Regions from separate parts of the Homo sapiens genome. Here all the other regions are linked to region 1. Evidence: fine-mapped expression QTL. A gene starts in region 1. Each other region holds a variant in brackets. All regions are shown on one strand. Distances are between the middles of the regions.

Region 1 (5,106 bases):
ATTGCTTCAAAGAAAATCTAGTCTTGTTTTACTGAAACTCTCAGCAATATAAATTCAGTGAATGTTAACTGAAATTCCTTAAAGAAAATCAGAAGTAAAGTTAAGATCTGCCAGAATAAATATATAAAAGGAAACACTGGTGGCCTCTCTCCTTCATCACAATACCTCCCAACAGCTGACATTTATAGAACTTGCAGACTCTTTCAGGAAAGGATGAGTTATTGGGAATAGACTCTCTCTACATATATATAGTTTATGGTGCATGAGATCATATTTACAGGACAATTTAGCTTAAGAGTGGTACAATATCAAAGAACTTAGAATTTATCATCTATAGCATGCGAGATTTGGCTTGCAAAGGTTTCTCTCTCAAGAGTCTCACCAAATGTCCCTCAGCCCTCTACTTTCCTTCACAGAGTAGTCCCACCCATTGAAAAAGTGATAAATTAAGAATAAAGAATATACATCTTACAGAAAGTTTCCCACCATAGTCCCAGTTCCCACTCTATGTAATTACCTATTTGCCTATGAAAATTGATATGTAAGAGCCGTGTTGTCAACACATTTAACTAAACCTAACAGTTTCCTTTCAGTCTTAACACTTTTTGACAGACCATACACACACAAACTTGTAGCTCATTCTCTAACTCCATTTTGATACTTACAAGCCCAGTTCTTCCATCTCTCACCCTCCCTGGAAAGAAAGTCCAGTGGAAGTTTTACCTAAACTTGATTATTTTTGCGTTTTTCTTTGGGGTTGTTAAAGGTATTGATCAGAACTCACCTCCCAAGCATTGATAATCCCAAGCCGACGAGACCCCAAATATCTTCAGTTTGTAACATAGAAATGCTACTGGTCTCAATGACAGAGAAGGAAAATAACGTTCCTACTCCGTCAAATTAAGAAACAAAAATGAAATACAGCAGCTTTCATTCTGAACAAAACTAAATTTTCTGGGTCACTTTCCCTGTCTCACTGGGCCACTTCTTTACGCAGCCTGCTGGTGACTGTAAACACGGTCTCTTCACTCCTCACGCAACCAGTTCATTTGTCATCCTCTCCAAGCGAATAGCCACCGCTTCCTTTGCTAGCGCAGTTCCCAAACAACAAACCTCCCCACCCGCCCCTGCCCTCCACACCTCACCGCGGAGACTCGCTTTCTTTTCTTCCAAACCACAAATGGGCGAGCTTGTTCAGGGAAAAAGTTAATGAACGCCTGATTAGAGGCAAAGCTGCCCTACCTGCGATCACAACATCGGAAGACTGGAAGTATCTAAAAGCGCCATCCTCTGCGCTCTCGTCCCCGTCGGTGTGCGCTTCACACCCAGAAACCCAGGAACATGATTTATATGCAGACCTGCACCCATCCCACACAAGTCCACACGCCAGCTTGCCTAACCACTTATGTAAGCTCGTGCTTCCACAGTCCCAAACTGCAGACACACACACACGGGCACCTGTCACGCATCTGAAATGGACAAGCACCCACACCCAGGAGATGAAATCAACACATATTAATGGGGTGGGGAGGGAGGATACTGTTTTAAACCATGTTTTTCCCCCATTTGTTTCTTGCCCATTTTTTATCACAACTACAATTACCTTAGCAACCAAAGAATTGCCTTGACTCTCCCTCTGGCTCCAGAATTTTTCCTAAAGCCAACCTTGCGCCAGGTTCATGATAAAGCTGGAGAAGCCCAGGGAACCGGGGACCGGCAGCCTCTTGGGGGCGGAGGGGAAGTCTAGTCCGTCTCCGCGCCGCTCCCCACAGCCTCGCCTCCTCTTTCCGAGTTTCCGTGGTGGCGAGCGCAGGGGCTCAGCGAGCGAAGAGCGAAGCCCCGGGCCCGCGAGGACGCGCGGCGGGTCGCATGGTGCCGGGACTCGGGGCGCACAGGGTGTCCCCGGCGCGCTCCGGGCTGGCCTGGCTCTCCGCGCTCCCAGGCGTTCGCCGCTTGCCCGCCTCTGCCCGCCCCGGTCGGCAAGGGTGCGCGGAGGTCTGTCCGTTCCCTCGGCGCCTGGCGGCTCCGGCGGCTGTAGGAACGCGGCGCCCAGGCGGAGCTCTCGCCGCCGAGCAGGGCCGAGCGCGAGGAGCTGCCCCAACTCGCGAAGCCGTTCAGCTCCGCGGCCCGCGAGCTGCTGCAGCGGCGCCCGCTGTCGGATGCCGAGCGGAGCTGCAGCCCCGTGCCCCGCGCACCTGGGCGCCGGCACCTGGGCCCCGGCACCTGGGCCCGGACCGCGTGCTGCAGGGAGGGGCCGGCGGGCGGGGACCGGCACCTGAGCGCGTCCCGCGGGCGCCGCCGCACGGCTCACCTGTTCCCAGAGCCGCGGAAGGCGCAGACCGTGATTTGCTCGAGGAGGAGAAAACCTAGAAATGCCTCATCCTCAAGAAGCCGCCGAGAAAACCGAGAGACTGGCTCGACCGGGCGGAGGCTGCTTTCGTCAATTCCAAACTGGCCCGGTCCGGAAACTTCAGCGGCGTCAAGGTTCTCTTAGGGATTCCCGGCCCGGGGTGAGGTGCCCGGCGGCTTCTGAATCTCCCTCACTGACGTGTTGCTGGCGCCCTCTAAATTAAAACGGGACACCGCGACCGTCAGCGATATTGTTCCTAACCTCGTCATTTTTATGTATTCAACATGCACACCACACGCTGCATTTGGAATATTACAGGATGATTCCTATCTGGAACACTACAAAAGAACTTTCGAGAAAAGTAACTCTCAGATATTCTTGGGGGAAGCAGAAAAAAGTCGAAGACAGAAAATGAGAAAGTAACTTGAACTGATGCCTTTCTTTAACGTGGGAGTTTTGAAATGCGATGTGTACTTAGATTCAAAAAGCTGCAGGTGGAAATAGGACAAGATCACTAGTGCTGGACGGTAACCGTGGGATTTGTGTGCAATATCAATGCTATCAATATCAAGAATAAATTTGAGATTTAGTCCTGAATTGTAGTATGTCACCAGAAAAGGGGAAAAATACTTGAAATAAAATACCTAAATGCCTTTAACGATGGATGACCTGGACTCCTCATTCACATGGGTCCAGAAGTTAAAGAGTAAAGTCTCCTTCCCAAATTGTGTCTTTTCCCGCCATTCTACATTGATTAATGGATGTATTCATTCTTTCCTTCAATAGACAAATAGCACCTGCTCTGTGTTAGACCCTCTTCTAACATTAGAAATGGATAATAAAGGAAGCAGTCTCTGCCCTGAAGCCTTCACGTCGAATGGGATAACACACAAGCAGACATGTGTGTTATGGTAGGCTTAGTACACAGAAAGGCGGGGGGTGGGGGGAAACCTGCAACCAAGAGAAACCATACCCAGCCTAGTGAGGAAAATAGAATTGTAACAGATGTCCCAGTTGTTTATTAAAGCTGAAATATAAAATCTTTCTTTCCTCAGGCTCAATACTTGGCTCAAGCCGGTTGTGGAGCTGGCTGTGGCCGTTTGTCACAGTTAAAGAATAGGCTGTACATGGAGCGAAAGGTAGCAACTAGGGAAACTTCCGCTTTGAGGAGCTCTGCTTTTTTTTTTTTTTTTTTTTTTTTTTTTTTTTTTTTTTTTGAGACGTAGTTTCCTTCTTGTTGCCCAGGCTGGAGTGTGGTGGTGCAATCTTCGCTCACTGCAACCTCCGCCTCCCAGGTTCAAGCGATTCTCCTGCCTCAGCCTCCCAAGTAGCTGGGATTACAGGTGCCTGCCAGCTAATTTTTTGTGTGTTTTCAGTAGAGATGGGGTTTCACCATGTTGGCCAAGCTGGTCTCAAATTCCTGACCTCAGATGATCCACCCGCCTTGGCCACCCAAAGTGCTGGGATTACAGACTTGAGCCACCACACCCAGTGGGAACTCTGCATTTCTGAGGCTAGCAGCTCCTTGAGGGCCAAGTACAGCATGAAGGAATAATACTGTGGAAGTATAAACAGCAGGCTCCAGGCTCATCAGAAGAAAGCCTTACTGTGTACTTCTCTTTAAAAAAAAATATGTGAAATCAGATATTTATAGGAATTAGATATGTATTTTCATATTGATACATTTTGTGTATTATATGGGATTCCTGATATATCTATGTAGTATGGTTTCTTATACATAAAATATCTGATTTCATATGTATGTGTATGTATGTGGGGGGTATTTTATATATATATGTATGTAATAGAGACAGGACACATTTTTTGCTGACATGGCCAAGAGATTGGTTTATGTGCTAGGGAATTGAGCAAAGAAGTAAATACATTAAGAAAATTGGAGCCAGTCATCTCACTGCTGGAGAAGGGAATTACCAATACAGAAAGGCAAGAGATCTAGCTATGTGCCTTGAAGTTGGAGATGAAGGTGTAAAATGATTTTGGATCCAAAGAGATTATAGATAGATAGACAGAAAAATATAAGTGTATATGTGTGTGTATATGGTGATATATTTCCTAGGTTTGTCGACTGAGAAGGCCTAAAAGCAATGGCACCCCAGTAGCAATGAACACACCTAACACTCAGACCTTGGTTTCTTAATACCATCCTCCACTGAAAGGAACCACAGTTCCTTGGTATAGTGGATGAAACTAGAATAATTTGTTGTGCAAGGAAATGAGAAAATACTTAAAGAATTATGGAGACATGTCAAAAGAAGACAGAAGTCAGCTTGAAGGGGTTCCTGTTGGCCAAATCTTGAACTATTTAAGGAGTAAAATAGTTAATGACAAATTTAACCCTTTGAGTAAAATAAGAGTCCATGAGTCCATGCTGATAGAAACAGAGAAGGGAACTCTATAGTAGAATGCGACTAATAAATGAAGAAGAAAAGATAGAATTAGAAAACCACCATTTGGCAACCACCATCTTAATAATTGATTCAGGCCAGAATCATCAATAAATGCTAAAATTGGTGGGTAAAAGTTTGATGAGGAACAGGATATTTACATAGTCTCAAAGCATATCTCTAAAAATGTTCATTAATACATCATTAATTATTAATAAGTACAGCATACTTATTAACATGCAGCTGTAATACTTGGGAGGTATCATCTTAATCGACTGGTAAAATTTTACATAAATGAAAACCAGTGATGGGACAAATCAGCCTTGTGCAGCATCCTGATATGATATGCTG
Region 2 (5,106 bases), 29 kb before region 1:
GATGAACCTTGAAAACATGCTAAGTGAAAACACGCTAAGTGTAAAAAGCCAGACACAAAACGTCACATATTGCTGGAGTCTATTTTTATGAAATATCCAGAATAGGTAAGTCCACAGAGACAAGAAACAGATTGGTAGCTGCCAGTAGCTGCAGGGAGGATGGAATGGGTGACTGCTTAATGGATACAGGGTCTCCTTCAGGGGCCTTGATAGAGGTGATGGCTGTAGAACACTGTGAAAGCATGAAATGCCACTGAATTATACACTTTAAGATGGCTAATTTTGTGTTATGTGAATTTCACCTCAATTAAGAAAAATAAATATATTTAATGTGGCCTTTTTGAAAAGCCTGAAAAGATAACAGTGAGATAAGAACAAGTATATGGAAGTTTTGAGTGAAGAAGGAAGTTCAATCCTTGGTATGACACTATATTTATTGTGTGACCTTGAGCAAGTACAAGAATCTTTTGGGTTTCTTTTGTTAATTTCCCTTTAAAACAAACATACCAAACACCTGCTATATGCTCTGAGTCATGCCAAGGCACCTTCCTCTACATTGTCCTCAGCAGTAAAATGTGAATTCCACCAAGTTCCCCGCAGGTAAGGGTCAAATAAGCTGAGTATGAGAGCAGAGTATAAAGCCATAAAAGTCCTATACAAATGTTATCCCTCATCTAAGAGGCTGCCTGGGTTATTTGCACAAAATTCAGAGGCTTTTCATCAAAGAAACTCTTATAAATACCATACGTGACAGAAAAGGCCATTTCAATTCAAAATACAAATTCAGGAAACATTTTATTATAAAACAAGTTGCTACCAAAGGTCATTCCATAAAAACAAATTTGGGTGGAAAATGGGAGAGAGAGGAATTTGTAATTTATGCTAAGAATTTAATTGCCGAAAATATCCCATTCGAATAACACTACCTGCTTTCTTCACTATTTATAAATTACAATGTTTTTTAAAATTAGATTACATAAAGAGGTAAAGAGCATCATTCTATAATATTATCTCTATACACTGTAATATCAGGATTTCTATGAATATAGTACTACATGGAAACACTGATTACCATTCTAACCAATGGCTTTTAAAATTAAATGAACAACACACAGTTTTATTTTTAAACAACTACTTAGTTGCCTACTCCTTTGCCTTAATACAGAATACAACAGAGCATGAAAACAAAAATTGAGTTCATTTATATATACTCATGTATCCATGTAATAGAGACGTTTTAAGTTTCTGTCGCTTTATTTTAAAATGAACACTTTAATGAGCACATTCTCTTCTATCTAGAAAACTGTATTATAATAGCAAGGTTAGAAATGACCTAGAAACAAACGTGTCAGGCCTCCCTCTGCCCGGCCTCCCTCTGCCCAGCCACCCCCTCCCACCAACAGAAGCATTTGTGTGTGTTAAAACAGGCTGATGTTCCAGAGTCTAGACTGGAAACTACTAAGTGAATGCAGATAGTCTCTGTGTGAAGAATTTTAGTAAGCCTCGTATTCAGTAGAAATGTTTCTATTTTTGGTTCCTCTATTAACTCGTTTTGAAACTCAGACAAGCTATTTAGCTTTCCTGTGTCTAGAAAGAATCATTTCTAAAATAATAATATACTTTCTAGTCCATAGGTCAACAGATGTTATAGAGAACTGGATGTGAAACCTACATAGGTAAAGATTTTCTAATTAAATTCATTGACTATTAAAGCTGGGGCTTGTGAAATTAAAGGACTAGGTTTTCATTCATTATAGTATGATGTAAAATACTTCTTTTAAATGGAGTACAATAGAAATGGGTTTAAATTTAGTGGTAGAGAAAAACAGAATGTTCTTCATTGTACTTATATATACATATATATACACACAGTAAACAACCCAGGGGCTTCAATATTAACATTTGAAGAATGTGAACATTTTTCTGAAAACATGTAACTGCATACCAAAAGAAAGAAAGCATGTTAATATTATTTTCCTATATGGACTCACAGCTAACCCAAGAGGAAAACTGAAAATGGGCTAGGACCTTGCATTTCACAGTCTTCAAGAAGAGACAATACAGCTTGATGGTTACAAGATGCCTCTCATTAGACAGATCCATGTCCAAATCCAGGCTCCACCACTTCCTAGCTGTGTGATCTTAGGCAAGTTCCTTCTCCTCTCTGTGCCTTTAATCTGTTATCTGTCACACACCATAGCCCCAGCATAGTGGAAAGCCCTCTGAACTAGGAGTCCTGGTATCACCCCACCCCTAGCTCCTTTGCAACTAACCAACTATCAGAACCAGGACACACAGCTTCCCTGGACCTCAGTTGGGCATTGGCTATAAAATCCAGCAACCTTAGAGTTCCTTCCAGCTCTGAGCTAGACCCTCAGAACCTCACATTTCTAACTTTCCTTCAAAGGTTCTCACCAGAATGTTCCATGCCACGTGTCTCTGTCAATACTGCCTATATCCCAGCCCATCTCCTCTATTCATGACAGCACTCAATGTCTCAAAGAATAAATCACAAAACCACTGCGGTGGAGCATCCCCCATCTGACTCAGCATCCCTCCCCATGACGGAATTCCTATACCACACCACCCACCCTCAGGTTCTTTGGAACTCATCATTTATTCTTTGAGCAAATATACTGAGCATCTACTTTTGTAAGGTTCCATGCTAGGCCCTGGGGATATACAGATAAGTCAGACACAGATCCTCTCCTTAAAATGTTCAGAGACCGGTAGGAATAACAGATGTGTTCACAGAAAGGACACTGTAATATGTGGTTGCTCAATTATGATGGCACAGAGTAGGAGGAGGTGACAGATGAGCAGAAGCCTGGGAGAGGCAAAGTTTGCCATTCCAGCCAAGGCTATGCACACACACAGGCATAGAAATCTGAAGCCCCAGAAGCGGCTCAGCTTTGTGCTAGACAGTCAAGAGAAAAAAGCCACAAAGATAATCTGATCCCAGAAAGATTAAGTGGGAGACAGCCAAGTGTGGAGAGTGAGATAACAGGGATTCGCAACTATCTGAATCTGCGGGACTTTGTTTACTTGTCTATCAGGGACTTC[C/T]TCTCTAGAAAGTCAGTTCTTCATAGGCAGGGACTTTATCGTTGGGGTTCACCCCTCTCTCCCTGGCACCTAGAGCAGAACCTGGCACATAGAAGGTACTTAAATATGTTTGAATGAATGATGGAACTGATAAAATTCCACCAGGATGCAGTGTCCTCCTTCCAGAAGATTCATCTGGATAACAAGCCATTAAAAGTGGCCAATAAAGAAGACTCTTGATCAACAAAGACCCATGTATAGCATCACACATAAAGATTTTCCCCAAGGTTTATTGATATGAACCAGCCTGGACTCAGCAATCCACTTCTGGAATTCATAAGCAATTTAGGTAAGAAGGAATATGTGGTGAGGGAAGAAAATATAGTGAAGGGGATGCTCTATGCATAATAGGACAATTGAGCACCTGTGACACAAACAGATTCGTGAATCATTGAAAGTCAGGATTGTGCCTGCAAGTCTACTCCAAACTGACACTGCATCTGTAACTTGCAGTTACAATAAATGCCTGCTGTTTACTTTATAATGCCAGCCCCTCTGGAACAAGCAAAGCCTAGGGTTCGGCAGCTAACAATGTTGAGCAGAGCAGGAAGGAAGGGCCTCGATGGTATAGGAAAAGGAAGGGCTTTGAAGTCAGACTGGGAATCACATCTCAGCTCTAGCCTCATTAAGGCTACTATGTGGCCTTTGACAATGGGCTCTCCCACCCTACGTTTCCAGCTCCTTGCCTGGAAGATGAGACCCCTCCATCACGCAGGGTTGCTTTTGAAGAGGGAAGACACTAAGTCATGGAAATGCCCCAGCACAGAATGAATATCGAAACTGACCAGTGACCTTGTTCTAAGCCAGGGTTTGGCCAAGTGAAATTCCCAGGCCACTGGCATCAGATTCAATGGAGAATCCCACCCCAACCCCCACCCTCAGATGTTCTGACTCGTGCATCAGAGATGAAGCCTTCAGCGGTCCAACAACCTCCTCAGGTGATCCTGACACAGAGCTAAGAGGAGAACCAACTACAATTACCCTACAATGTCACTGAAATTACCATGGCTTGCAACTAAATGCTTTAAACATCATGCCTGCCACTCTTAGTGCCCAGCCCTCAAAACCCTATTCAGGGAAATGCCATGTAGGAGAAGCAATCAAACTCTGACTGTAATATAGTTTGAATATTTATGCTGCCAAATAAGAATTTCTGTTGAAGTTATTTCCTCTCCTCCATATTATATCAAATTCTCATTGTTTGCCTCAGCCCATTAAAACCCAATGGATTTTTTTTTTCTGACATCAGCAACGTTAAGCACTTCAGGAAAAAAAATTTACAAGATGTGTGCTAGCTCAGTAGTACGAGCTTGTTTATATAGCTCTAATCTGACTGAGTGGGCAGGAATCCCAAGGGGAAAGAAGGAAGAACAACAGCTCTAAATAACAAATCACTCTTCCTGTTATAGCAGAGTATGCCAACTTGACATTTCCTATATATTCGAAGTTCAAATGTTCAATGACAGACAGAGTGTCCGTTTCAGGTAATGCACCAAGATCTTAAAGTACGGCAATAGCACTCAACCCCTAAAGGCCAATTTTGGTGGCACTGGAAGACACCCAGTATTTTACTGGGATATAATCACTTAATCATTTTAGGACATCGATTAGAATTCAGTGGTTCCCAAAAACTTGCCCAAGGACCGGAACTAGGCTAGCAGTCTCAGAATAACCTGGGAGATATTCTAAATATACATACTCCCGGTTCCCATGCTCCAGAAGTTCTGATCCAATAGGCCTAGGGTGGTCCCTGGAGATTTACAGATTAACCATTTTCCAGATGATTTGTAAGTACAGCCAGGTTTGGAAACCGCTGACCTAGATTCCATGGAGCCTGCCTTCCCTTCACTTGATCCCTTCCTCCCATCCCATGCTGCCTGATGTTTGGGCAGACATGCTAATGGGGGGGCTCCTTTAGCTTCCCATGTATTAAGGCAAAAACTCAATGAAATGGATACAACAAGGTTCTGGGGTCAAAAAAAACTGGCTTTCAATCCTGGCTAT
Region 3 (5,106 bases), 170 kb before region 1:
AGCTGGGATTACAGGTGTGCACCACCACGCCTAGCTAATTTAGGAGAGAGGAGGTTTCACCATGTTGGCCAGGCTGGTCTTGAACTCCTAACCTCAAGTGATCTGGCCACCTAAGCCTCCCAATGTGCTGGGATTACAGGCCTGAGCCACCACACCCAGCCCCTTATATTCTTTCTTATCCATGCTGCCGTCCAAACTGTAAAACTGGAAATCACTCCCGTCTTTTACCAGGCCTTGCCATTACTATCTTCTAAGTCTCTCTCAAACCTACCCCTCTCTTCACCGTCCCTTTAGTTCAAGCCCCAAGCAACTCTCCCCTGTACACAACAGTCTCAACCAATTTTCCTGACTCTTACTACTGTGCTGGTGACCCGCTCTCTGCTTGGCTTTCGGAACCAAATCCATGAAACAGCAACCTGATTACGACATTCCCATGTTTAGGATCTTTCAAGAAGTCCCCATCACTCACACAGTAATACTCAGTTTCCCAAGTAGAAACGGGGAGAGTAATACAGTTTGAAAGTGCTTACTACATTTGGCACTGTAAGTGCTCAACAAAAGTAACCATGACTACTAACTACTAATGACTATCACTACTGTCACTTTCACAAAAAGGAACAAGTCTAAAGACAAATAATCCCCGCCAAAGCTATGAGGAAGAGTGGCAGAGAGTTCCTTACATGGTCAACAGCAGAGCTGTCTGAATACAACTGTCCCAAGCTTTTTCTAGGGTAAGAATGCTCCCTGGAAATGGGTGTTTCTATCTGAGAGCTCATTGAAGTCCTCCCAAAACAGACATTTAAAGAAAATGATATTGTCCTGGGAACAAATCTTACAGATGTGTGACTCCCTCCACCTGTGCCTAAGGTGAAACATTAGCTAGTCTACTTCCTGGCTGTGTGACCTGGTATTAAAGCTGCTTCTAGGCAGGGTGCGGTGGCTCATGCCTGTCATCTCAGTACTTTGGGAGGCCGAGGCAGGCAGATCACCAGGTCAGGAGGTCGAGACCATCCTGGCTAACACGGTGAAACCCCGTCTCTACTAAAAATATAAAAAATTAGCCGGGCATGGAGGCTGGTACCTGTAGTCCCAGCTACTCGGGAGGCTGAGGCAGGAGAATGGCATGAACCCAGGAGGCAGAGCTTGCAGGGAGCCGAGATCGCACCACTGCACTCCAGCCTGGGTGACAGAGAGACTCCATTTCAAAAAACAACAAAAAAACTGCTGCTCATCTGTAAGATGGAGATAGTAAAAGCACCCATCTCAGAGTTGTGAGATCAATGAGTTTATACTTAGAACAGTAACTAATATATAGTAAATACTCAATACAAACAGACTGTTCGATCCTTGTTGAATAAATCAAATCATGAAAAAGCCATACAATTCTAAGGATGCATGGACAGAGACTGATGCCCCTTAAAATGTGCACAATAAGAAAGAAATCCGCACAGAAGTTCTTTGTATACCAGGTTTGTTTGTGTGTGCCCTGTGGGTACTAGGGCTCTACGCACTTAGCAGTACAGCAGCACATATGATAGACATTTTCTAGAACAACTTACCCACCAATGAGGCAGGTGACACAAATGAAAGAGGAGAACATGCAGTACCATTTTACAGGAAATGAGGGAAGGGAGGCTCATTCTGTGTGAAGGGAATAGTTACTGCTTGGTTAGAAGCAATTTTTGGTAATTGGGACTCAATTTTGCCAAAACTTCCAAATTTTTGAGGGAAACTGGAACTCTGTATTTTTATGTACAGTCTCCTGATAAATGTTGGCAACTCTTTCAATTATCTCCAAAAATCCTGTGCCTGTCAATCAAAATATATCTGCAAGAAAAATTTGGTCCAAGCTCTGACAGTTCGTGCTCATTAAGCTAAAAAAGAACAATGCCACTAAACTCTGCCCCTGTCCACACCGTCAAAAGAACAAATGCCCCCTGCCTGATGGCATGAAGGCACGGGGAGTGCTAGTGTTCAGCAGATAAACAATAGTGGCACCTGCCACATGTCCACACGACTTCACCCCTTTCAGGGGACAGAGAAAAAGCAAGGACAGGAGCCTATTATCTTAGCCAAGAGGCCAGGGAAATGAAATTACAGGAAATGCTGTGACATCAAGGTACCAGAGGGCTCTGAGAGAAGGGTCCAGAGGGTTCAAAGAGGACCTCCAGGAGGACAGGGGTCCCAAACCAGACCCCGAGGATGGGGGCGGTTTTGGAAAACATGGAGGGGGTTGCTCTAGGTGACAGAGGTGAAATGAACAACAGCACAGCTATGTCAGGATATTATAACATCTCCCCCACCCCAGGCTTTTGGAAAAGCTTATATGGTCCAGTTTGTTATTTTTAGAATTTGCTATGTGTGGGTCCAGGAGAGGTATAAGCCACCTAACACAATTGCTACCAGACATTGGAAAAATGACCCAGACATCGACATAGTTGACTATACATTCCCGCTTTCAAAGTTTTGCCAAACCTCTGCATCCTACACGTTGCTTGGCTGATGATATCAGGCTAAGAGCTGGTCCCTGCCACTAAGGAGCTACAATCTGAGGAAGGAATACAGAGACAAAGTGATAGGCACAGGAATTGTGGGTGTGGGGGACAAGACGCCACCCTGTCCAGCAAGAAGAGGTGGGCTGCATGCAGAAGCCAGCAGCTGGGCTGCATCTGGGCTAAGTGGGAGTCTTCCCGGCAGAGGAGGGGGAGGAAGGGTGTTCCAGGTAGCAGCAGCAACACAGCCCAAGGTGCAGAATGGTGAAAACTAGTAGTTTACAGCAACAAAGACACCCGCCCCCTTCTCCTCCTCTTCATTCTTGGTCTCTGCTAATTGCGGCCTTCCTGTTTCTTAGCAAGACAGGAATCTCTGGAGATCCCTAAGGATTTTTAAAACTTGCTCTATTGCCATTCATTCAGATGAAAAGCAACAAACATAAAAACCCACCAAAGACCAAAGTAAAGAGAATGATTTAACCTGCCAATGGTACATTCAGATGTGCTTCCTGTA[A/T]CCCTGTGTTCTTGGCACAAAGAAAGATGCTGTTAAGAAAATTAATTCTATTTATTTTGGAATGGAGCATTCTCTGCTCAGCCACTAACACAAGAGGAGATGGCCACACACATAGAATAGAAATTGCACCTCAAAGCTCAGTGTTGGTTTTGATTTGAGCTTGGAATTGTTGCATGTTTTGTTTTTTGTTTGTAACTATTAATATCAAAAGCATTTTTTAAGTTAATGTTTACTTCTTTTTGCTCTGAAAGGACAATACAAAGGTAGAAAGCTGAAGATTTCAACTCACTCCCAATTACTATTGTCAAGTTTCCAATGGCATGAAAAGGACACTCGAGGGTACTAGAATGGCAACTCTTCACATTCTGGGTTCATTCCCTACTACAGACGTGCTGCAGCAGCGGTATCCTCACCCTTTGCTTCTCTTTCTGGCCAGCTTTTGATAACCCTTTCAATCCCCAAGGGAAGAGAAGGAAGGAGACTGTGGTTGTTTGTCTCCAAAGTTGGTCCCTAATGAACCATGCCTCTAGGTATCCACGTCCTTGGGAACTTGCCCCTTCATCTGGGCTGTCCAGCACAACCAACGGAAAGTGGATGCTTCATGACTTGCAAGCTCAGGTTAAAAGCTTTGCAGCAGCCCCCCTGGTCTCTTGGAAACTTCAGCCTCAGAACCCAGCCACCAGACTGTGACAAGCCTAAGCCATATGGAGATGCCATGTGTAGGAGCCCCAGCTGCCATTTAAGAGCCAGGGCATAAGAGACCCCAGTGAGAACCACCCGGCTGAGCTCAGTCAACCCACAAAACCTATGTCTAGAGTACACAGCAAGACATAACCAGAACAGGGATGCCAAGGAAATAAAAGAAAAATATGAAATCAAAGAAGAGTCTTTTCCACCTGTGTACATGATATTGACATTTGTAGCCCAATTGAGGTTTTGTTGTTTTAGCACAGTTGTTAATTATCTTTGGGCTCCTGTTCCCCATGATCACCTAAAGATAATCAAGGCATAAAAGTATGCGTTTTCTGTGAATATATACAGAATTAATAAGCTCTATTTCATACATCTGTGTGTTTTTCTTTTCTTTTTTTTTTTTTAAGACAGAGTCTCACTCTGTAACCCAGGCTGGAGTGCAGAGTGCAGTGGTGCAATCTCAGCTCACTGCAACCTCCACCTCCCAGGTTCAAGCAATTCTCCCTCCCTCAGCCTCCCAAGTAGCTAGGATTACAGGTGCGTGCCACCGCACTCAGCTAATTTTTTTTGTATTTTTTAGTAGAGATGGGGTTTCACCATGTTGGCCAGGCTGGTCTTGAACTCCTAATCTCAAGTGATCCACCTGCCTCGGCCTCCAAAAGTGCTGGGATTACAGGCGTGAGCCACTGCACCCGGCCCTCCTCATTATTTTTAAGGTTCCCTTCTTAGCTGGGAAAAACAAAAGCAAAATCTTCTGAAACAAAGCAAAACTATCTCGTCCCCACTGATACTTTTTATGCAATAAAGTCAACAACCAAATACATTAATGTAGACAATGCACCAGCATTTCCTATCTTTTCATTTCAATTATGGCATTTGCATGACATTGAAATACGGTTTTCCACTTTCATGGTGATGACATTCATTTTTATATTTGCTGCTGCACAGCAAAACTCTATGTGTACAGTACATAACAGGCTGATGACTGGCAGTTACTTGCCCCATCCACATACGTTCCCTCTCTGTTCCTTGTGAATGCTCTCGTCTTTGTTTGAAATCTTAATGTGTCTGTGAAATACCCAATTTTCTGAACTTTCTTTGAAACAGGTGCAGCCAACGTGACACTGTTACAGCCATTTTGAATTAAGAGAGCAAGTCCACTGGGGAGTTCCGATGAAACTTTTGCTGTCCTGACAAAGAAGGAAAGCTGTGGCCAGCACCACCACTTTGCACTTCCCTCCTAGAAAATCTGCAGTCAGACCAGTCATTTTGCAACCCTGAGACAATAAGCCCAACGATAAAGGCTGAAAGACTACAAAAAATAGAGCAGAAAGCACAAAAGAAACTGGGTCTCTGACAGTATTGCCAATCTGTGTCATGTGAGAAAAAGAAAACCTACTTGCTAAA
Region 4 (5,106 bases), 560 kb before region 1:
ATATGTTGATCTTATAGATTGATATAATTTATTTTAGACTAATTTTTATTCTTATCAAAATGTATGTGAATAGTTAGAATAATAAAATAGTACCAAATGATTATATATACTAAAAAAGCAAAAGCAATTATTTTTTCCTCCCATCCCTTCTCAGAGAGGCATCTACTTTCCACCTTATGTTTTTTCTAAAAGCTACCTATATATTTCTAAATTATACGCTTTTATATCTATTCCTGATTTTTTTATTTTAGACAAGAATTTATCTTTCTATTCACCAGTCCTCAACTCCCTCCTTTTCTTACGTGATCCTCCAAATAGATTTGTGTTACAATTTTTGTTAAATCAATGGTCAGTGTAACATTATTAAACTAGATAAAAATTGTTTGCTGTTCAGCTAAATATCATACTACTTTTTCCAAGCAAGTGTTTTAACAAACCTGTAAAACATCTAGCAATCATTTTTTTATACCTTAAACACATCAAATAATTGAGCAGTTCTGTCCTCTTGTTTCCCAGAGATCCTCTTTCCTGAAGTCTTTAGTCTTCTTGCTCGAAACTGGATCATTTGCTCTATAGACTTGATGGAAAATGATCTTTTTGGGACTTCCTTCACTTCTGTGTTGAAAAGCCCATGTTTCCTGGATTCCATGTCTATCTCTTGCTTTTACTCCCTGATTGTGTTGAAGCACATCCTTTAGTAGTTTCGTAATAAAGGATGCATGAGAATCCTTGCAAGTCTAAAAATGCTTTTATCTCCATACTTGACTGATAGTGCTAGACATAGAACACTAGGTGAAAAATCTCTTTCCTTTAGAAATTTGTAGGCATCACTCCATGTTTTTTTTTTTCTGGTATGCAGTGTTACTATTGAGAAGCCTGGATCCATTTTGATTCTCGTTCTTTGGTTCAGTTTCTTTTCTCTCTGTCAACTTAGAATCATCTCTTTATTGCTAGAGTGTTCTGCAATTTCATGATGGCCCTTGCTGGTTGTTGTTATTTACTATGCTGGGCACAGTGTGTGATAGATAAGAAAATAATTATCAGGAATTTTATAGTATTCATCACTAATTTTAAACCCTTTGTTTCCTTTGTTTGCTTGTCCTATATTTTTTTTTCCAGTTCAATATTGGACATCCTGAATTGTTTATTTTCCCTCCCATTTTTCATCTCCTTGTCTTTTTGTTAAACTCTCTTTTAACTATTTATTTATTTTTTAATTTTGAGCCATTACTTTCTAAGTTTCAGAGTTCACTTTTGGTTATCATAGTGTCTAGTTCTTGTTTTATGGATGAAATACCTTCTCATTTCTCAGATAATATGAGTTCTATACTTTTATTGTAAGTTTCTTCCAGTTGTTGAATTATTTTGGTTCTTCCAAGTTCCTTTTTTCTGTCGGTTTATTTTGATTATACTCTTTCACGCTGAGCCTTCCTGGAGTGTCTGGAAAATCTTTGGACATCCATTTGTACTTAAGACTGAGGTACTGAAACCTGCTTGGCGGCTCAGTGGGCGTGTGGATGGGGCTTGTCACTGATGGGCTTCATTGTCATAGGGAAGTTTACCAGTATTTTAATGGGAGCTCCAAATGAGGGATCTGGAGTCTTTCCTCTGGGGCGTCTATTTTTCCCTAGGGCAGGCATTGGCAAGCTTTTTCTGCAGGGCCTAGATAGTAAATATTTTAGGCTTTGTGGGCCAGATGGTGTCTGTTGCCACTACTCAGCTCTACTGCTGTGGCATAAAAGCAGCCATAGACAGCTTGCAAATGAATGCGTGTGACTGTGTTCTAATAAAACTTTATTTGCAAAAACAGAATGGAGTATGGTTTGGCCCACAGGTTGTACTTTGACAGTCTCTTGCCTGTGGGTATATATGTCTGGCTCCTGGAGGCCTGAGAGCAGGGTCGGGGAGGGGCTGAGGGTCTGTTGGGGCTCAGAACATGATACCCTAAAGTATAGTATGTTGGCATGCTGAGTACTTTGAACTAAAGGAGAATGGAAGGGCCTCAGAAGCCAAGGCTTTCACCTTCTCTCCTGCCCCCGTCTCCCATCCCTTTTTCTCCCCCGACGTAAGTCATAGAAACAAGAATTCTTTTTCGCCAAAGTGGGTCATAGAAACTAGAATGCCTCTCCTGCAAAGCAAGCCACAAAACCTAGAAAGGTCACTCGCTCCCTTCTCCCTTGAAAACCCTCATTCCAGAGAGGTCCTACCTGGGAGGTAGGAATGCTACTCAGAGACACTAAGAAGAATCTGAACAGACAGGCCTTGCTGGGTTTCCTCCCCTCAGTCTGTTACCAGTAGATCACACCCTTTTGTCCAATCACATTTCTACAAGGCTTCCCATTCTTCATGGAACCTAAGCACAAATACAGTTTTCCCTGGGTCTTTGAGTCTTCATTTCTGAAGGCTTCTGTGTCATGTGAAACTGATGAAATAAATGCATTTATGCTTTTCTCTTGTTAACCTCTTTTGTTATAGCAGTGTTGGCCGTAATCCTTATGGTAGATGAGGAAAGGTATCACACTTTCCATCCCTACAGGCCCCACAGTTCAGTGCGTAGAGCTTCCATTAATTCTCTTATTTTCAGGTGGCCTCTTATGAGATCTGATGTGTCTGAGATCTGAGCGTATGTGGCTCAATTTCTCTCAAGAAAAAACTGCCCATCTCCTGCAGTGGTGGTAGGTGGGAAGGATTGTTTCCTAGTAGGGCAGGAGATCTAGGGGTGCAAAGTCTCCTGTGACAGACTTGACCATTCCTCTGCTGTTAGCCCCATGCCTCATTCCTGCTTTCCATGGTCCCTAGTGCCTTCAAGAGCCAAGGCCAGGCTTTGTTGCGAAAACTGGCTCACTTTGTCACAT[C/T]ACTTCTGCCCCCAACATGTAGGTTAGAATGTTCTTTACTCTGTCCCTATGCACTTTCTTTTTTATTAAATTTTGAAATATTTCAGGCATACAGAAATGTATAAAAATTGTAAGATTTTACTTTGATACCTTGTACTCGCTGACCAATTAAAAAAATAAAAAATAACAAATACAGACATAGGGGCCTGTGGTTATGTTCCCCAATTACGTAAACTTTGTATCTTGGACAAATGTGTTGAAATTATTAATAGTTTGTTAACCTTGTGAGTTCATGCCATTTTTGTTCCTTTAGTGACATGTTGCATTTGAGGAAAGGGAGAAGATGAACATATGTCTACAATATTGTCTTGGTTGCATTGAGTGACTTTATTACAATTTACTTAATCGTTTCCTTTTTATTAGACACAGATTTTTTTCTTTTTTAATATACATAGTGCTGTGGTAGAACACCGTTGTTCACACAGATTTTTTTTTTTCATCTTCTGGGTTATTTATTTAGAATGCATATCCATAAGCAGAATTATTTGACCAAAAGGTATGAATATTTTTATGGTTATCGATCCACAATAAAATTTTTCCTTAAGCATTGCCAGCTTGTGTGTCAGCATCTTCTCCCACAACAGCAAAGTCAGAGCCACAATTCCTACTACTGAATTGCAAAGGGCAATAATGGCCAATTAGCTTAATGCTGAACAGGCAGAGAAATTAGTCAGAGGTGCCATCTCATGCTACTGGAAGTGTGATCCATAAACCAGCTGCACTGGCATCACCTGGGAGCCTGTTAGCAATGCAGGATCTCAGGTCCCAGCCCAGGCCTCCTGAGTCAGATTCTGCTTTTTAATAGGATCCCCCAGGTGATTCATATGCACATCCAAGTTTGAGAGAACCATATCTCATTCCTCAATTTTCTGAAACATTCAGGACACAAGATGTTTTATTCATCAAATCAAAATGAAAGAGCCCCTGGTAATTTTGGTTTTGAAGATGGATGTAAATTTTCGGACACCTCAGAGCCTCCTCGCTGTCCCAGGTGTTTATCATGACCCCTGGGGTAGAAGCAGCAGTGGTCCCAGTTGAAAAGCCTTAGTTTGAATTCTTGGTTGAGTCATTTAACTGATCTTTGTCAAGTTCATCATGTTATATAACAGGCTTGTTGAGCACTCAGGACCATTGTGATAGAAAATGGGAAAGCATCTCCAAAGAATCTTGACAATCCTCTACAAATATAAAATAGACAAGCGAAACCACGGGCACACTAGAGGCACATCCTCTGTCCTATAAATCTCCTGCAAGGTATGCATCTTCCCTGGGGCCAGGCTTCACCAATAAGAGCTGTATTAGTTTGTTTTCATGCTGCTGATAAAGACATACCTGAGACTGGGCAATTTATAAGAGAAAGAGGTTTAATGGACTTACAGTTCCATGTAGCTGGGGAGGCCTCACAATCATGGTGGGAGGCAAGGAGGAGCAAGTCATGTCTTACATGGATGGCAGCAGGCAAAGAGAGCGAGCTTGTGCAGGGAAACTCCCATTTTTAAAGCCATCAGATCTCATGAGACTTATTCACTATCATGGGAACAGCACAGGAATGACCTGCCCCATGATTCAATTACCTCTCACTGGGTCCCTCTCACAACACATGGGAATTCAAGACGAGATCTGGGTGGGGACACAGGCAAACCATATCAAGAGCTTTACGACATCTCAGGCAGAATGAACCTGGGCAAGGGAGCTGTAAGAAAGCACTATGGCAGGAAGGACCAGGCTACAAGTTGGTGCTGCACCTGGAAGCCACTTCTTAGCTACTTGGGCTGATTGAATTCTTTATAAAAGAAATGGCATTGCATGTTGAGGAATATGTTAGTTTTCTAGGGCTGCAATAACAAATGACCACAAATGGTTAAAACAACAGAAGTTTATACTCGGTTTTGGAGGCTAGAAGTCTGATATCAAGGTGTTGGCAGGGCCATCCTCCCTCCGAAGGCTCTAGGGGATAATTTCACCTCGCCTCGCCTCGTCTCACCTCGCCTTGCCTCTCCTTTCCTTTCCTTTCTTTTCCTTCCAGTTTCTGGTGGCTCCAGGCATGCCTTGGCTTGTGGCTGCATCACTTTCATCTCTGTCTTTGTCTTCACATGGCTTTCTTCTGTGCCTGTGTCATCCGCTCTCTTTTTTGTCTTATGAGGACACTTGTCATTGGATTTGGAGTCTCTGGATAATCCATAATGATTTATGTAGATATCCTTAACTGAAT
Region 5 (5,106 bases), 480 kb before region 1:
AATCCTAAGCCAAAAGAACAAAGCTGGAGGCATCACGCTACCTGACTTCAAACTATACTACAAGGCTACAGTAACCAAAACAGCATGGTACTGGTACCAAAACAGAGATATAGACCAATGGAACAGAACAGAGCCCTCAGAAATAATGCTGCATATCTACAACTATCTGATCTTTGACAAACCTGACAAAAAGAAGAAATGGGGAAAGGATTCCCTATTTAATAAATGGTGCTGGGAAAACTGGCTAGCCATATGTAGAAAGCTGAAACTGGATCCCTCCTTTACACCTTATACAAAAATTAATTCAAGATGGATTAAAGACTTACATGTTAGACCTAAAACCATAAAAACCCTACAAGAAAACCTAGGCAATACCATTCAGGACATAGGCGTGGGCAAGGACTTCATGTCTAAAACACCAAAAGCAATGGCAACAAAAGCCAAAATTGACAAATGGGATCTAATTAAACTAAAGAGCTTCTGCACAGCAAAAGAAACCACCATCAGAGTGAACAGGCAACCTACAGAATGGGAGAAAATGTTTGCAACCTATTCATCTGACAAAGGGCTAATATCCAGAATCTACAATGAACTCCAACAAATTTACAAGAAAAAAACAAACAACCCCATCAACAAGTGGGCAAAGGATATGAACAGACACTTCTCAAAAGAAGACATTTATGCAGCCAAAGAACACATGAAAAAATGCTCATCATCACTGGCCATCAGAGAAATGCAAATCAAAACCACAATGAGATACCATCCATCCCACACCAGTTAGAATGGCAATCATTAAAAAGTCAGGAAACAACAGGTGCTGGAGAGGATGTGGAGAAATAGGAACACTTTTACACTGTTGGTGGGACTGTAAACTAGTTCAACCATTGTGGAAGTTGGTGTGGCGATTCCTCAGGGATGTAGAACTAGAAATACCATTTGACCCAGCCATCCCATTACTGGGTATATACTCAAAGGATTATAAATCATGCTGCTATAAAGACACATGCACATGTATGTTTATTGCGGCACTATTCACAATAGCAAAGACTTGGAACCAAGCCAAATGTCCAACAATGATAGACTGGATTAAGAAAATGTGGCACATATACAACATGGAATACTATGCAGCCATAAAAAAGGATGAGTTCATGTGCTTTGTAGGGACATGGATGAAGCTGGAAACCATCATTCTCAGCAAACTATTGCAAGAACAAAAAACCAAACGCTGCATGTTCTCACTCACAGGTGGGAACTGAACAATGAGAACACATGGACACAGGAAGGGGAACATCACACACCGAGGACTGTTGTGGGGTTGGGGGAGAGGGGAGGGATAGCACTGAGAGATATACCTAATGCTAAATGATGAGTTAATGGGTGCAGCACACCAACATGGCCATGTATACATATGTAACAAACCTGCACATTGTGCACATGTACCCTAAAACTTAAAGTATAATAATAATAAAATTAAAAAAAAATAGGCAGTTGCCACTTTGTAGATCATAAATAAAAGTGATGTTAAAAAAATTTTAATTGGGAGGTCATTAAGCCGAAGCATTCCCAGCACTTTAAGTTCCTAGGTAAGCAAACCAAAGCCCAATGTGAACAGTAAAATGAAACTAGAGAAGTTACCATCAGAAACCTCCAACTAACCTCTAACTAGGGACTTTCTACTCTAACAAATCAAATATGTTTTCTTTGTCTTACTTCCACGTTCCGCCTATTAAAGCTCACTACCCATGCTGCTGGGTAGAGCTCTCTGAACCTTTTCTGGTTCTGGGTGCTGCCCAATTCATGAATCCTCTAATGCTCACATAAACTCTGTTAAAAGTATTGTGTCCAGTGTTTTTCTTTTAACAGTGGCAAAAAGACTAACTTACAGGTTCCATTTTTGTTGACTTGAATCTTTCGACTCTGAACAAGAGGGACCCCTCACTGGAATCTCTGTTTTTATTATGATTTTTATATAATGTGCTAGTTTTTACAGAAGTAATTCAAGTGTACTCCGACATATATGGCTTAAAAACTTTGATTCATCAGAATAAGAGTCATTTTCTATTTTACACTCTACTTTCTGCTACAGAATTATTTCCAGTTGTCATGTATTAAGATGGAACCCAAAGAAGACATCATCCAGCAAGGTGTGTCCCAGGTGTCCATGCTACAGGGCAGGCACCCTATGATGACTCCATCCTCCCATCATTTTTATCCTGCCAAATTGCTATAAAACTAGTTCAATAAGCTTGCCATGACTTTAACAGAAATGCACCGATTATGTAATATGTCCTTTTCTGTTCTTTATCATTAGATTGTGACAGTTAACATAGTATGTGCCTCTAATGTACTATGCCATTTCCATGATGCCAAATTGATTCAATATATACTCTAAGAAACTAAACTCTTGGTCTATAAAAAAGTCATTCAACTGTGAACGCTCATGGCAAAGGAGTTTTGCTTTTGTACCTGATGATAGAGTCCCACACAACACAAAATGAGGACAAGACAGATTTTATCAACCCAATGACAGTCAGATGTGTCTTGCAAACATTTAAAGTCAAGTGATGTGATTTTAGATGAAGTCTTGGTTACCTACAGGACTGAGAACAAAGGCACTGAAATCTCATGACAGCACTCAGTTATAAGGTGATCATCTAGGGTTTATCTGTACATTATTATACTAAACAATGAAAAGATTATCATAAAAAATTTTTAAGTTATCATCAAAAAACACACAATTGGAAAAACTAGTAGAATTTGCAAGTCATCTGAGAACCACCAGGGGTCTGTGGATCTTAGTATAAACAGACTCGAGTTGATCTAAAACTGCTGAGTGCAAGTCAGTCTTCAGAAGATACAGCTTTGCCAACTACGCTGTAACAACAG[A/G]AAAGGACTCTTTATCATTTCCTTTAAATAGTAAGTGTTATAAGTGGATAAACAAGCATGAGTCGGTTTGTTAAAACTTGATTTAAATACAACTTTTTTGGGAGCATATCCTTCATATAAAGCAAGAGCCAATTACTCTGACTCTCTCCAGTGGAGCAGAGGGGAAGGCCGCCTGTAATGAGAAAGCAAAGTAAGCCTGGAGGTTTCATAGTTGGCTATACAGTTTCCAATATAGGGCTCCTTCTCATAGTTTGGTCTACCTCCCTATTTAACACAGACTGCAACAAATGTTAGAATAAAAGTAAAACACAAGTCAAGAAAGCAACAGTAGTAATGGTGCTCTTGATCTGTTGAGAGGCCATGAGATGATCCAGCCATAATAGCAATGAGCTATTTCCCTTGCACTTCAAGTACTGGGGGAGGATTTTAATGTCATTGCACTAGAGAGGTTCTGTCATCTGTGTTTCACACAAGGTCAGATTCTAAAGTAACATTTCCTGACAAAGGGGGCTTTAGAAGCCTCTCCCGGTTTACTGTCTAGAATAACACGGACCTTGAGGGGATTACGTGGCAGTTAAAAAATACAGCACTCAACAGCACTCACAATCATGTTTGACCAAATATCTGAGTACTTAGTGGCAAATGCAGATCTTGGGGTTTCTCAGCCTCCGTAATCACATGAGCCAATTCTTTACATAAATCTCTTTATACACACATACAGACACGTAGCACTCATTAGAAAGACATTAGGAACAGCAATACCATAGGACATCCAGAGGGAAGCAGAGCTTTCCATTGACATCAACCAATAAAGACTCCAAGACGGTTCTCCAAACGACAAGCCTACAAGCAAAGACTATGATGTAGCTATGAGGATCATGCAGCTCAGCACAGGCAGTGTGGGGCAATGCTGCATGGACACAGAGAGAATGCAGATCCTCCCAGAACTATCATTCTTTTACCACATGAGTTAAAGGTGGTCACCAGCTTTTAAGAGAGGAACACCTAGGGTCTTGGTATTAGAACCTACAATACAATAGGACATGATACATTACAAACCAATGTAATTAATTATGAACAGTATGTAACAACATCAATGTAACTAAAGAAAATTGTACATACAGTTTTCATTACCCAATGTGGCTTTGGTTATTCTCACCGGTTATTTTCATAAAGTCTGAGTTAATGTTACATGGAGATATCTGGACAATGTGGACCAACCTGACTATTGAGATCATGGCTGGATATCCACATGGTGGGCACAACCCAAGCTGCAGCCATGCCTACCCTTCATTCTCCTTACTGAATACGGCTTTAAGGAGGCTGACTTCCCTCCGAGTCCAAAGGTGCCTACTGGTACCTATAAATACATTTGTGTGGTGGCTGGTTTGGGAGTTTTGTCCCCAAAATACTAAGATGAACATACCTATACTGTTGCATATCTATTGCAAGTCAGTAACAGACATTGCCAAACACAAAGAAAACACAAAATTGCACTCCAGCTCTATAAAGGGAGCTTTCCCATCTTTAGGAGAAATCTGGTAGCTAGTGGCAGAAACTGACACCCACCCCCTGACTTCCAGCCTTTACTCCCTTCATAAACAATTGACGAGCTTTGGGAGCCTCTACACCTCTGTGCAGCTCCAGTTCCTGGTCACCAGAACCTACACACGACTGCCTTTGCCTGTTTTCACAGAAGTGTTCAGACATAAGCAACAAACTGCTTATTTGATGTTGTGCTAAATAGCAGTTTCTTATTTTTTTTTTTGAGATGGAGTCTCACTCTGTCACCAGGCTGCAGTGCAGTGGCACGATCTCATCTCACTGCAACCTCTGCCTCCCGGGTTCAAGCAATTCTCCTGCCTCAGCCTCCCAAGTAGCTGGGACTACAGGCGTGTGCCACTGCGCCCGGCTGATTTTTGTATTTTTAGTAGAGATGGGTTTCACTATGTTGGCCAGGATGGTCTTGATCTCCTGACCTCATGATCTGCCTGCCTCGGCCTCCCAAAGTGCTGGGATTACAGGCATGAGCCACTGTGCCTGGCCCTTATTTCCTCTTTTGCAGCTAAGAGCCTTTCCTCCAGGTGACTGGATAATTTTCTCTAAACATCCTCCTTCCTTCACCCTCTCCCATTTATTGTCTACAGTAACCTTAACATCTGGACGCAGACAGCCCCAGCAATCCTGGAGGAAACCTTGGAAATACGCGGGTCATCTTCT

Alleles and levels. Alleles are on the strand shown, and positions count from the first base shown. SD is a standard deviation of normalised expression in the study named. Not every link is listed here.
For the expression in whole blood of the gene that starts at base 2,116 in region 1, allele T in region 2 goes with a higher level than allele C (small effect, 0.23 SD a copy in GTEx).
For the expression in tibial nerve of the gene that starts at base 2,116 in region 1, A is the high allele of the variant in region 3 and T is the other (large effect, 0.82 SD a copy in GTEx).
As copies of T replace C in region 4, the expression in lymphoblastoid cells of the gene that starts at base 2,116 in region 1 goes up (moderate effect, 0.55 SD a copy in GTEx).

What was found. PIP is the estimated chance that this variant, and not a neighbour inherited with it, causes the effect.
Region 2: its variant is fine-mapped to the expression of RGS6 in whole blood (TOPMed, PIP 0.91).
Region 3: its variant is fine-mapped to the expression of RGS6 in tibial nerve (GTEx, PIP above 0.99). The same link has a PIP of 0.9 or more in adrenal gland.
Region 4: its variant is fine-mapped to the expression of RGS6 in lymphoblastoid cells (GTEx, PIP above 0.99).
Region 5: its variant is fine-mapped to the expression of RGS6 in whole blood (TOPMed, PIP above 0.99).

The regions. Positions count from the first base shown.
Region 1 is chr14:71,929,439-71,934,544 of GRCh38, reverse strand. It overlaps RGS6 (regulator of G protein signaling 6), which reads right to left and starts at 2,116. Exons shown (of 18, transcript NM_001204424.2): 1 at 1,604-2,116. It overlaps LOC124903404 (translation initiation factor IF-2-like), which reads right to left and starts at 2,619. Exons shown (of 2, transcript XM_047432046.1): 1 at 2,520-2,619; 2 at 1,655-2,376. The coding sequence starts at 2,619. The coding sequence ends at 1,655. RefSeq lists silencers at 1,868-2,027, 2,048-2,327.
Region 2 is chr14:71,958,566-71,963,671 of GRCh38, reverse strand. All of the region lies in intron 1 of RGS6 (regulator of G protein signaling 6), which reads right to left. Among named protein-coding and RNA genes, the nearest start is that of RGS6, 29 kb to the right of the region's middle. The variant C/T (reference allele first, on the strand shown) is at 3,064.
Region 3 is chr14:72,095,278-72,100,383 of GRCh38, reverse strand. All of the region lies in intron 2 of RGS6 (regulator of G protein signaling 6), which reads right to left. Among named protein-coding and RNA genes, the nearest start is that of RGS6, 170 kb to the right of the region's middle. The variant A/T (reference allele first, on the strand shown) is at 3,007.
Region 4 is chr14:72,489,511-72,494,616 of GRCh38, reverse strand. All of the region lies in intron 12 of RGS6 (regulator of G protein signaling 6), which reads right to left. Among named protein-coding and RNA genes, the nearest start is that of MIR7843, 25 kb to the left of the region's middle. The variant C/T (reference allele first, on the strand shown) is at 2,856.
Region 5 is chr14:72,405,931-72,411,036 of GRCh38, reverse strand. The region is part of intron 3 of RGS6 (regulator of G protein signaling 6); the gene reads right to left. It overlaps LOC105370559 (a long non-coding RNA gene), which reads left to right. Exons shown (of 4, transcript XR_944018.3): 3 at 5,034-5,106. Among named protein-coding and RNA genes, the nearest start is that of MIR7843, 110 kb to the left of the region's middle. The variant A/G (reference allele first, on the strand shown) is at 2,887.